3 linked regions of the Homo sapiens genome follow. The protein of the gene in region 3 purifies or fractionates together with the protein of the main gene of each other region. This does not show direct contact. Each region holds a gene or a part of one and is shown on either strand. Other genes may lie near its edges. The genes, in order: SQOR, TMEM63A and SLC45A2.

Region 1 (3,656 bases), on a different chromosome or scaffold from region 3:
AACTCCTCTTTGACTCTGAAGACTTGGTAAATAGGAGCAGTTTGGATAGCTTATGGAAAGCTGCCCAGACCTGGCTGGAAGCCAACTAGTTGCTTCTTAATCCCAGCCTTAAAAATCTTTGTAATCCCCAGATGTAGGTGGTAATAATAATAAAGAAAAGTAGATCTAGCCAACCATCCCTGTGATTTACATTGAGAAAGTGCTAAATTGGGACAGGAGGTAGAGAACTTTGTGGAAAAAAACAAAACAGAACAAAAAAACCCTCGGAAATTTAGAACACACTGGGACTATCTATGTCTGTAACTTTGGGAAGGGCAAATACTGGTGTTATGGACTCACCAAATTCATATATTGAAACCCTAGCCCCCAGGATCTTAGAATGTGACTGTATTAGGAGATAGTGCCTTAGTTAGAAGTGGTGGTGAGCACCTGTAGCCCCAGCTACTTGGGAGGCTGAGGTGGGAGAACTGCTTGAGCTCAGAAGTTCGAGGCTAGCCTGAGCAACATAGCAAGACCTTGTCTCAATAAAAGAATAATTAGCCAGGCACGGTGGCTCACGCCTGTAATCCCAGCACTTTGGGAGGCCGAGGTAAGCAGATCGCTTGAGGCTGGGAGTTTGAGGCCAGCCTGGCCAACATAGAGGAACCCCGTCTCTACTAAAAATTCAAAATATTAGCTGGGTGGGGTAGTGTGCACCTGTAATTCCAACTACTCAGGGGGCTGAGGCATGAGACTTGCTTGAACCGGAGAGGAGGAAGTTGCATTGAGCCAAGATTATCATGCCACTGCATTCTAGCCTGCGCAACAGAGCAAGACTCTGTCTCAAAAAAAGAAAGAAAGAAAAAAAAAAAAGGAAAATTAAGTTAGGTCATTAAGGTGGAGCCCTAATCCAATATGAATAGTATCCTTATAAGAAGATGACTCGTCAGGAGCACATGTGCACAGAGAAAAGGCCACGCAAAGGCACACTGAGAAGGTGGCCATCTGCAAACCAGGGAGAGAGATCCCAGGAGAAACCAGTCTCATCAGCACTGAGGTCTTGGACTTTCAATCTCCAGAACTTTGAGAAAATAAATTTCTGTTCTCTAGACTTCATCTAGTCTATAGTGTTTTGTTATGGCAGCCCTAGAAAATTAATACAACTGGTTCTACCAAATGGACAATAGGTTTAAAAAAAATGGCTACAACTAGGCACCATCTCTTTTAAGTCATGATCCCGACATGTCCATCACTTGCTCTTAGGATCTCTTACCCAACCTATGCAGAAGAGTCTCCCATGTACTTTCCTTCTACAGACACCCTGTGTGGTCCCTAGGATCTTGCCTGAAGTTGTTAAAGCCATATTCAGCTTCATGATTTTGACTGTTAGGAAAAGAAAAACTTGGCCTCTTCAGCAAGTGACCTAGGTTAGCTGTTGTGCCATGTACATAGTAAGTACTTTGTAAATGTATGGTGGGTGATGGGTGATGATGTTATGATCATCCTTAAATACCATGGGGTGACTCCCTTCTGATCATAATGAATCTCCATGTTTTGGCCCTAGCCCAGCCCTCAGGGAACTTTCATGCCACCTAGCTGGGAACCAGCAGCTCTGGCCCTAGCTACATGAATGGAGAGAAAATGGCTATGTCTGTATCCTGGTACCAATTCCTGACTTCTGGGAGGGAGGGCTGCTTCTGGAAGTGGGGATTGTGGTGATTTCACTCTATGATAACTTTCTTATATCTTTGGCTATTTGTTCTAAGGTAGCCCATGATGTCTCCATAGGAAAATGATGTGTTTTAACAACCACCATGTTTGGAGTATAGATTGTGAGAGCTCTTCAAGACAGTGCTGGGTCTAGTAAATGTGGTTTTGTGTTTCTGTGAGCACATAAATGATGCTTGAGATGGATGAGGGGCCATCTGAGTTTGGAGGAAAATCATGAGCCTTTCAAGGTCTAGGTGATCAAATCTAAGCTTGTTTTGAATCATTGAGTAAGAAAGGTCTTTAATGGCAACTAGACACCTCCACTTATTTTACACTCAGGGAAATGGACTCAAAATGGTAAATGACTATCTCATGGTCTTACAATCTCCATTTCCTCACTTATAAAATGGGAATAATAATTCCCACCTCTCTGGTTTTTGTGAGTAATTACGTAAAGTGCATAGCACAATGCCTGTCACATATCAACACTTCCACAAATGATTTGGGGACTTGCGGGGAGAGATTGAGAGGAATGGTTTCCATTCTAATTATGTTCCAGACCTGCTTATTAAAGCCTTGTTATTCTTTGCCACAAAAATTCACATCTCTGATCAATCTAAGGAGTTATTAGAACAAGCGTCCCCATTTGAAAGCCTGCTTGTGAACTTCCATTTTCCTTTTCTCATTTAGAGGATAGCAAAGTTTTAGAGAAGCAGGGGACCTTTGATGCCACCCAATCTGATCCTTTATTCCATTGATGAAGAAAGCATGGCCCAAAATGGGTCAGGAAGAGCTGTACCTAGCACTCCCTGGACTGTGGTCCTGGGTCTCTTGACTCTTGATATGCCCTCAGACAAAGCTTCACCAGGAACGGGTCATTGTCATCTAGCTGGACACAGAAGAGACGTGAGCTGTCTACACCTCATTCTGTCTCAACTATTAAAGGATTGAGTTTAGAGTCTCTCCAACTATGTCCAAATAGCAAATGTATACCTTGAAATTAAAGAGTGTTTTCTCATTATGGTAAGACCTCACACACTGGATTCCAAGGAATGATATACTTGAATGAAATGGCCAGTCCCGTTTACAGTGAACTCCTTGCATGTGAGACTCTGAGTGGAAATCCCAATGCTCCTGAGGCTGATGAGTAATTTTAATGTGGTCATTTAACAAACTCAGGAAAACAAGTTCATCCCTGTTGTGTGACTGGGAGTACACTGATTCCACCTCAGGCTTCTTTTTCCAGTGAGTCATGTCCTACAGTCTGCAGATGGGCACACACAGGCATATACAGACTAGAAAGGAAACCTGAAAATTACCTGACCAGAGGCCAACTATGAGTGGTGGGGTTGAAGGGGAGCTAAGTCGTGCTTCTTTATGTACTAGAATGTGAGAAGTCAGGCTCCCACTGGCTACAGCAAGCAGAAAAACAAGGTGTTCTTTCATTTTTTTTCCCCCTATATAATTCAGTCAAAACTCTTAACTTTCATTTGAAATAATCCAATTGACTGACATATTTTTTCTTTCCTGGAATCTGAATGCAAGCATTTTCCTTATGTAAATATAATTTGTGTTTTCTGCTTAGCAATTGTATTGGTTTGGTGAAATTGTCAGTTCTCTTGTTACAATGCATTCTCTGATTGTAAAATAAGGATAGGTCAGGATAATTTGTAGGAAATTTCTCAGGAGCAAAGGGAGCCACTGTTTCATTGTAAAGTCCTCATTAGCAACTCTTAATCAGTAACTCTGCAAAGAAAATTCCTACAGTTTTGCCCCTGAAGAGTGAGGGAACTAAAGAACCCCAGTGCAGCTCCCAGTCCTTGAATCATCAGAGAGCTATATAGATTGTTCCTATTTCCCCAGTGACTCAGTCCTGGCCCACTACTGGTGTACTTGCTTCACAGCTTAATATTTAAACAAATGTTTGGATTTATAACAGCTCCAGAGGGAGAGTTTCAACATGGCCC
Region 2 (3,328 bases), on a different chromosome or scaffold from region 3:
TCCCAGCTACTCGGGAGGCTGAGGTAGGAGAATCACTTGAACTCAGGAGGCAGAGGTTGCAGTGAGCCAAGATTGCACCAGTGCACTCCAGCCTGACCAATGAGCGAGACTCCATCTCAAAAAAAATAAAAAATAAAAAAACAAAAGAACCTGGCATAATAGAAAAGGCAGCACCCACTTTCTGTTGGTCCCCTGTGTGCTCCTGTGCCACCCCTGGGGTAAGACCCTTGGGCCTCATTCTCTGTTGACTGTGATGAGGGCAGGGATCAGCCGGGTGGGAGAAGGCCAGGGGTGTGGGAGCACTGACATACAGGGGCTCAGCATGGGAAGGGCTGGGGAGGAATTGAGGCCAGGCATCCAACTGTGAAACAGCCTCTTTCCAAGATGATTCTGGAATGTTAGTGTTCTGTGGGGACAGGATCACAGACACTGTGACTCCCTTGGTGCAGGGTCTGTCCCACAGACCCTGACCCAGCGACGGATGAAAGACATACACTGCCGGGTGCGGTGGCTCTCGCCTGTAATCCCAGCACTTTGGGAGGCAAAGGTGGGCGGATCACGAGGTCAGGAGATCGAGACCATCCTGGTTAACATGGTGAAACCCTATCTCTACTAAAAATATAAAAAATTAGCCGGGCATGGTGTCAGGCGCCCGTAGTCCCAGCTACTTGAGAGGCTGAGGCAGAAGAATGGCATGAACCCAGGAGGCGGAGCTTGCAGTGAGCCGAGATCGCACCACTGCACTCCAGCCTGGGCAACAGAGACTCTGTCTCAAAAAAACAGACAGACAGACATACACTGACAGATATTTTGCCTGTCAGTGCGGCTAAGGGGCTCTGCAGCCTGAGTCTGCAGTGTAGTCCTCAATGCCAGGCGAAGTTCGCATTTATTTAGTACAGACTAAATGACAAAGGTCTCGAGTAAACACCACTAGAGGGTAATTAACATTGCCGACCCCCTGAATAGCGAGCAATCATGCACCAGTGGATGATCAAAGGTTGGTCTTAGGACCACATGAGTAAACAAGCTATTTAGGTAAACTCCCCCACATTCCTATGTATCTGCACCCTAAGCTTTTAAGAGAATTCAGCTGCCTTCAGCCAAACCCTTTACTGAAGCTATGCAAACCTCTCGGCTTTCCAAGAAGGTTTGTGTCTATTTCCTATAACTTTATCTTAAATTTTCTCCCACCACCCTGACCGATCCCCTACACCTTGGGGTCACAGATAAGTGAGGAAGTGGGTAGGAGAGAGAAAGTGAAAAAAAACTAGTAGCCAGAGGTGCAGGATGCCTCATTTTGTGTTCAGGCAGTAGAGCAGCAGCCCCAGCCCTGGCTCCTTGCCAAAATAGCCGCCCCGGAGAGGAAGAGGACAGAGGTGTCTGTGTGGCCCTGCGAGGTCTCCAGCTCACAGCCCCATCCCCTGCAGGCCTCATCTACATCCTGCTCAAGCACATGGTGGACCGGCACAACCTCTACTTCGTCTACCTCCCAGCCAAGCTGGAGAAGGGGATCCACTTTGCCGCTGTGAACCAGGCCTTGGCAGCCCCCATCCTGTGCCTCTTCTGGCTCTACTTCTTTTCCTTCCTGCGCCTGGGTGAGCAGCCCTTCTGACCTGGGGCCAGCCCTTGGCCTCCCAGCCCTGCATCCCCACCAGCCAGTCAGATCCCTCATTGCTTTCACAGCATCAGCATGGCATCCAGTCAGAATGTGGTGCCCAGAGTGAGGGCTGGTTAGGTGTCCCATCAGAACGTGGTACCCAGAATGAGGGTTGGTTACATGTCTAGTCAGAATGTGGTGCCCAGAGTGAGGACTGGTTAGGTGTCCAATCAAAACATGATACCCAGGGTGAGGGGCTGGTTGGGTGTGGTGTTGACAGCCTGGCTCCTAAGCTAGCCCGAGTGCAGGTGTAACCCTTGTGAAGGCCTGGTCAATTGTCCCATACATCCCTGGAGAGAAGATAGTGCCTTTATCAGCTGTGCAGGGACTGAACCAGAGGAAATGGGGAAGCTGATCCAGATTTGCCCTTTGAGGCTGGTGGTTGGGCCCAGCTCCTTGTACCTCCTGGCATGGAAGAGGTGGGGACGTGGAGGAGAGAAAACTGACACTCCTGGGGGAAAGACACGTCTGCCCCGGTCAGACTGGGGGTGTGGGAGGGTCCATCCTCTCTAGCCCAGGGCACTGGAGACTGGAGGGAACGGACCAGCAAGGAGGCTGAAGAATTGCCATTGACTTGGCACCCCAGTGCCTGAAATCTGACCAGGGATGATGCCAGTCATTCAGTGGGTCCCTCTGTGTGTTCCTGGCTGTGAAGACACCATCCTTGCTGCTGGAGTTGAGGGGTGGGGGTGGGGGGTTAGGCCTTACCTTTATTTTCTGCCTGAGGGAGAAGTCACGGGCAGTTTCCACACCAGGTGCGGCCCCTTCCTCAGCAGGGTGAGGGTAGGTGGTGGCCCCTCCCTGCCCACCCCAAGGCTAGCCACCCTCTATCACCAGGTATGAAGGCCCCCGCCACTCTGTTCACCTTCCTGGTGCTGCTGCTCACCATCCTGGTCTGCCTGGCTCACACCTGCTTTGGATGCTTCAAGCACCTCAGCCCTCTGAACTACAAAGTAAAGGCCCCCGACCCCACTGCCCGGTCAAGCCCTGGGAGGAACAGATGGTGGGACGGGCTCGCTGTCAACCCCGCCCACCCTTGTCTGTATCAACACAGCAGCAGCCTTCTCCAGATTCTGCTTCTCCATGGGAAAGGCGTGGGTGGTTGGGTGCCATGTGTAGCTTCCCTTCCTCCCCTCATCCCTGCACTCCCCCACCCCATCCTCTCTCGGGCTGCTGGGGAGCTTGGTGCCAGCTGGTACTATTATTCCGGGTGTTAATAGTCTGTGTGTTTGGAGGGTGTTTGTTCACAGAGATCAGTTTTGTTTATCATCGCAAGTTTTTGCTGTTATCTGCAGACAGAAGAGCCTGCAAGTGACAAAGGAAGTGAGGCAGAGGCCCACATGCCCCCACCGTTCACAGTAAGCTGTGCCCCTCAGCCTCTGAGCTTGTCGCCCTTTTTTTTGCTTTGGTTGTAACAGTCCCAACCAGATGGGCCCCGGCAAATCTTTGATCATCTCTTGCTAAGATCACATGGCAGGCAAGTTTGTGAATTAATGGCAGAGAAGGAATCCTGGTCCCCCTGGGTATTTTAACCTGCATATTTGAAACTGTTGAGGAGATAGAGTCTTGTCTCGATTCATGGCCATCCCCCTTGGTTTCAGTTCCCTGCTCTCTTTCCTTCTCTGCATATTTAATGCCTGGTGAGTTTGGGGCTTTAGTGAAGGCACATGG
Region 3 (2,727 bases):
GAAAGTCCTAGGCAATGGAGTCCAGATTTTAGTAAGTCAGACCCCATGTGTGAGAAGGAAAGCTGGAATCATGGGTGGTAATCCCCACTTTGCTGCCCTGAGCGGGACCTGTGCCATTTAAACCTTGGAACGCAACTAGTGAACAAGCGCCTATGCAGTGCTTATAACAGAGTTGGTGTTTCCACTCTAAAATTACCACCTCTTCTTATCAAAATTTGCAACTTTCTTCCTGTGAAAATAGGCTTATAGTTCCTTAACTGGAGCAATGATATAAAAGCTACAGAGATAACTCCAAGTTTAATCCAGCTCAGCATGAAACTGCAAAAACACTGAACATATAACCATCAGACTATAATTCTGGCCATGTTTTTCATCATTTGATCTGGCAGCAGGGCAGAGGTGCACCAGGAGTAAAAACCTTTCAAAAAAGAGGTGTGGCTTTCCTCATCCCCTGGCAAACATTGTCACCAAGGTGGGATGTTGCTGCTAATGGGAGAGTCATCATAAAAAACTGTCCCTACAAGGAGAGTGTTACATGGTGTTGGGGGAAGAAAACCTACGCTTCAGGCTCAGAGAAACCTGGATTCAAATCCTGCCTCTCTCACTTGGAAGCTGTGTTACACTGGGGATGTTATTTACTTGTTTATTAGTTAGCACTTAGAATGAGTTCATTTTTAGGTGAGATAATATATTCACAATGATACACAAAAGTGCACACTGTGTGCTCCCTTTACCATTTACTATCTCCCTCCAGCCCCAACGTGTTACCACTCTTACTAGTTTTTTGTTAATCTTTCCGGCATTTTTAAATAAAAACCAAGCAAATGTAAATCTGTTTTCTTATTTTCCTTTCTTATTCAAAGGATAATATGCGTTTTTCAGCATAATGCTTTTTTTTTGCCTAATAGTGTAGGAAATCATCATTTAAGCTCGCAGGCCCTCAGTTTCCTCATGAGGCAAATGGAAAGAATGTTATTTACCTTATAGAAAAGCAAACAAATTAGTGGATGTGCTTAGCATAGTGCCCCCTAGCACCCGACAAAGACTCAAAATGTGATAGCTAGTATTATAATTGTTACCATGGGGGTAATGATAATAACATGTGCATCCAGGGAGGTGGTGAGGTTGAAATACAGTAACAGGTAAAAAAAAAACCCAGGCCCAGCACATAAGCGATACCCAACAAATGACAAAGTTATCAGCCAGTTCGGAAGAAATATCAAGTATTAACCAAACATTATTATATTAATCAAGTAGCAACCATATTTTGAAAGATTGAAATGCTTTTTAAAGTTGCTTCTCTTAAGGACATCAGCAATTCAACATCCTTCTTAAAATCTTTGAATTTTTAACACTAAGAAAGGAAAAGAATGGGATATTTATTAAGTATCCACTACATTGTATTGATTATGGCCCGCCACTTGTTTTTGTACAGTCTGCGAGCTAAGAATTCCTTTTAATTGTTTAAATGATTGAAAAAAACTTTCAAAAGAAGGTTAATATCTTGTGACAGGTGAAAATTACATGAAATCAAATGCTAATACCCATCAATATTCAGTTCAGTTCCACATCACCAATTCATGAAAATTACATGAAATCAAATGCTAATAATGTCCATCAATATATATTGGAAAGCCAACTCAGCTCCACATTGCCCCTGCTTTTGCACTACAGCAGCAGAGTTGAGTAGTTATGACCAGGGCTGTATAATCCACGAAGCCAAAGGTATTTACTATCTGGCTGGTCACAGAAAAATTTTGCTGACCTGTGCCCTAAATGACAGTTCCTTGTAGGTCAAATGGTGGTTCTGTGCTTCCTTTGCAGAGGCAGCAGGCCCCAGGAGGGGACCCAGACAACAGCGTGAGAGGGAAGGGCATGGACTGCGCCACCCTCACATGCATGGTGCAGCTGGCTCAGATCCTGGTCGGAGGTGGCCTGGGCTTTCTGGTCAACACAGCCGGGACCGTTGTCGTCGTGGTGATCACAGCGTCTGCGGTGGCACTGATAGGCTGTTGCTTTGTCGCTCTCTTTGTTAGATATGTGGATTAGGTCAATAAAGAGACAATGACCCTAACCTCAGAGACAGTGAAGCACATGGCAGGAAGTTAACATTTTCTGCAGCTCTGAATCTTAGGGTCTGCCCATTGGACGCCCACTATTGTGATTTCAGCCGTGGAATCTGCCCACCTCTCTCTCTCTCTCTCTCTTTTTTTTTTTTTTTTTGAGATGGAGTCTTGCTCTGTCACCTAGGCTGGAGTGCAGTGGCACGATCCCGGCTCACTGCAAGCTTCGCCTCCTGGGTTCACACCATTCTCCTGCCTCAGCCTCTCGAGTAGCTGGGACTACAGGCGCCCACCACCATGCATGGCTAATTTTCTGTATTTTTAGTAGAGATGGGGTTTCGCCATGTTAGCCAGGATGGTCTCGACCTTCTGATCTCATGATCCGCCCCCCTTGGCCTCCCAAAGTCCTGGGATTACAGGCGCAAGTCACCGCGCCCAGTCCCACCTCTCACTTTAAACCAATCCTCTGCACAACAGTCCCCATATTTCAGGCAACGTTTGCCTGGACTATGCCTCTATGCCTCGGTGGCAAGGGGTAAGTGTGGGTGGCAGCATCTCGGTGCAAGGGTGGAAGAGGCAGGAGCTGCTTTTCACAGGGCATTACAAATCTTGCTGAGACCTCAGAAGCAGACTAATTCCATATACAATGCTTGGATGTGTTCTG

Evidence for each region.
Region 1: the proteins of SLC45A2 (region 3) and SQOR purify together in Homo sapiens (affinity purification with mass spectrometry; 2 studies listed by BioGRID and IntAct, with this or other methods). This does not show direct contact.
Region 2: the proteins of SLC45A2 (region 3) and TMEM63A purify together in Homo sapiens (affinity purification with mass spectrometry, with the first as the bait; one large-scale study listed by BioGRID). This does not show direct contact.

Annotation. Positions count from the first base shown.
Region 1 is NC_000015.10:45,637,903-45,641,558, forward strand, and holds part of SQOR (sulfide:quinone oxidoreductase, mitochondrial), read left to right. Parts: intron 1-3,656. UniProt on the Homo sapiens protein: Catalyzes the oxidation of hydrogen sulfide with the help of a quinone, such as ubiquinone-10, giving rise to thiosulfate and ultimately to sulfane (molecular sulfur) atoms.
Region 2 is NC_000001.11:225,848,179-225,851,506, reverse strand, and holds part of TMEM63A (mechanosensitive cation channel TMEM63A), read left to right. Parts: intron 1-1,427; coding exon 1,428-1,595; intron 1,596-2,494; coding exon 2,495-2,610; intron 2,611-2,952; coding exon 2,953-3,015; intron 3,016-3,328. UniProt on the Homo sapiens protein: Mechanosensitive cation channel with low conductance and high activation threshold. In contrast to TMEM63B, does not show phospholipid scramblase activity. Acts as a regulator of lysosomal morphology by mediating lysosomal mechanosensitivity.
Region 3 is NC_000005.10:33,943,970-33,946,696, reverse strand, and holds the end of SLC45A2 (membrane-associated transporter protein), read left to right. Parts: exon of another isoform or gene 1-831; intron 832-1,824; coding exon 1,825-2,049; 3' UTR 2,050-2,074; downstream 2,075-2,727. UniProt on the Homo sapiens protein: Proton-associated glucose and sucrose transporter. May be able to transport also fructose. Expressed at a late melanosome maturation stage where functions as proton/glucose exporter which increase lumenal pH by decreasing glycolysis.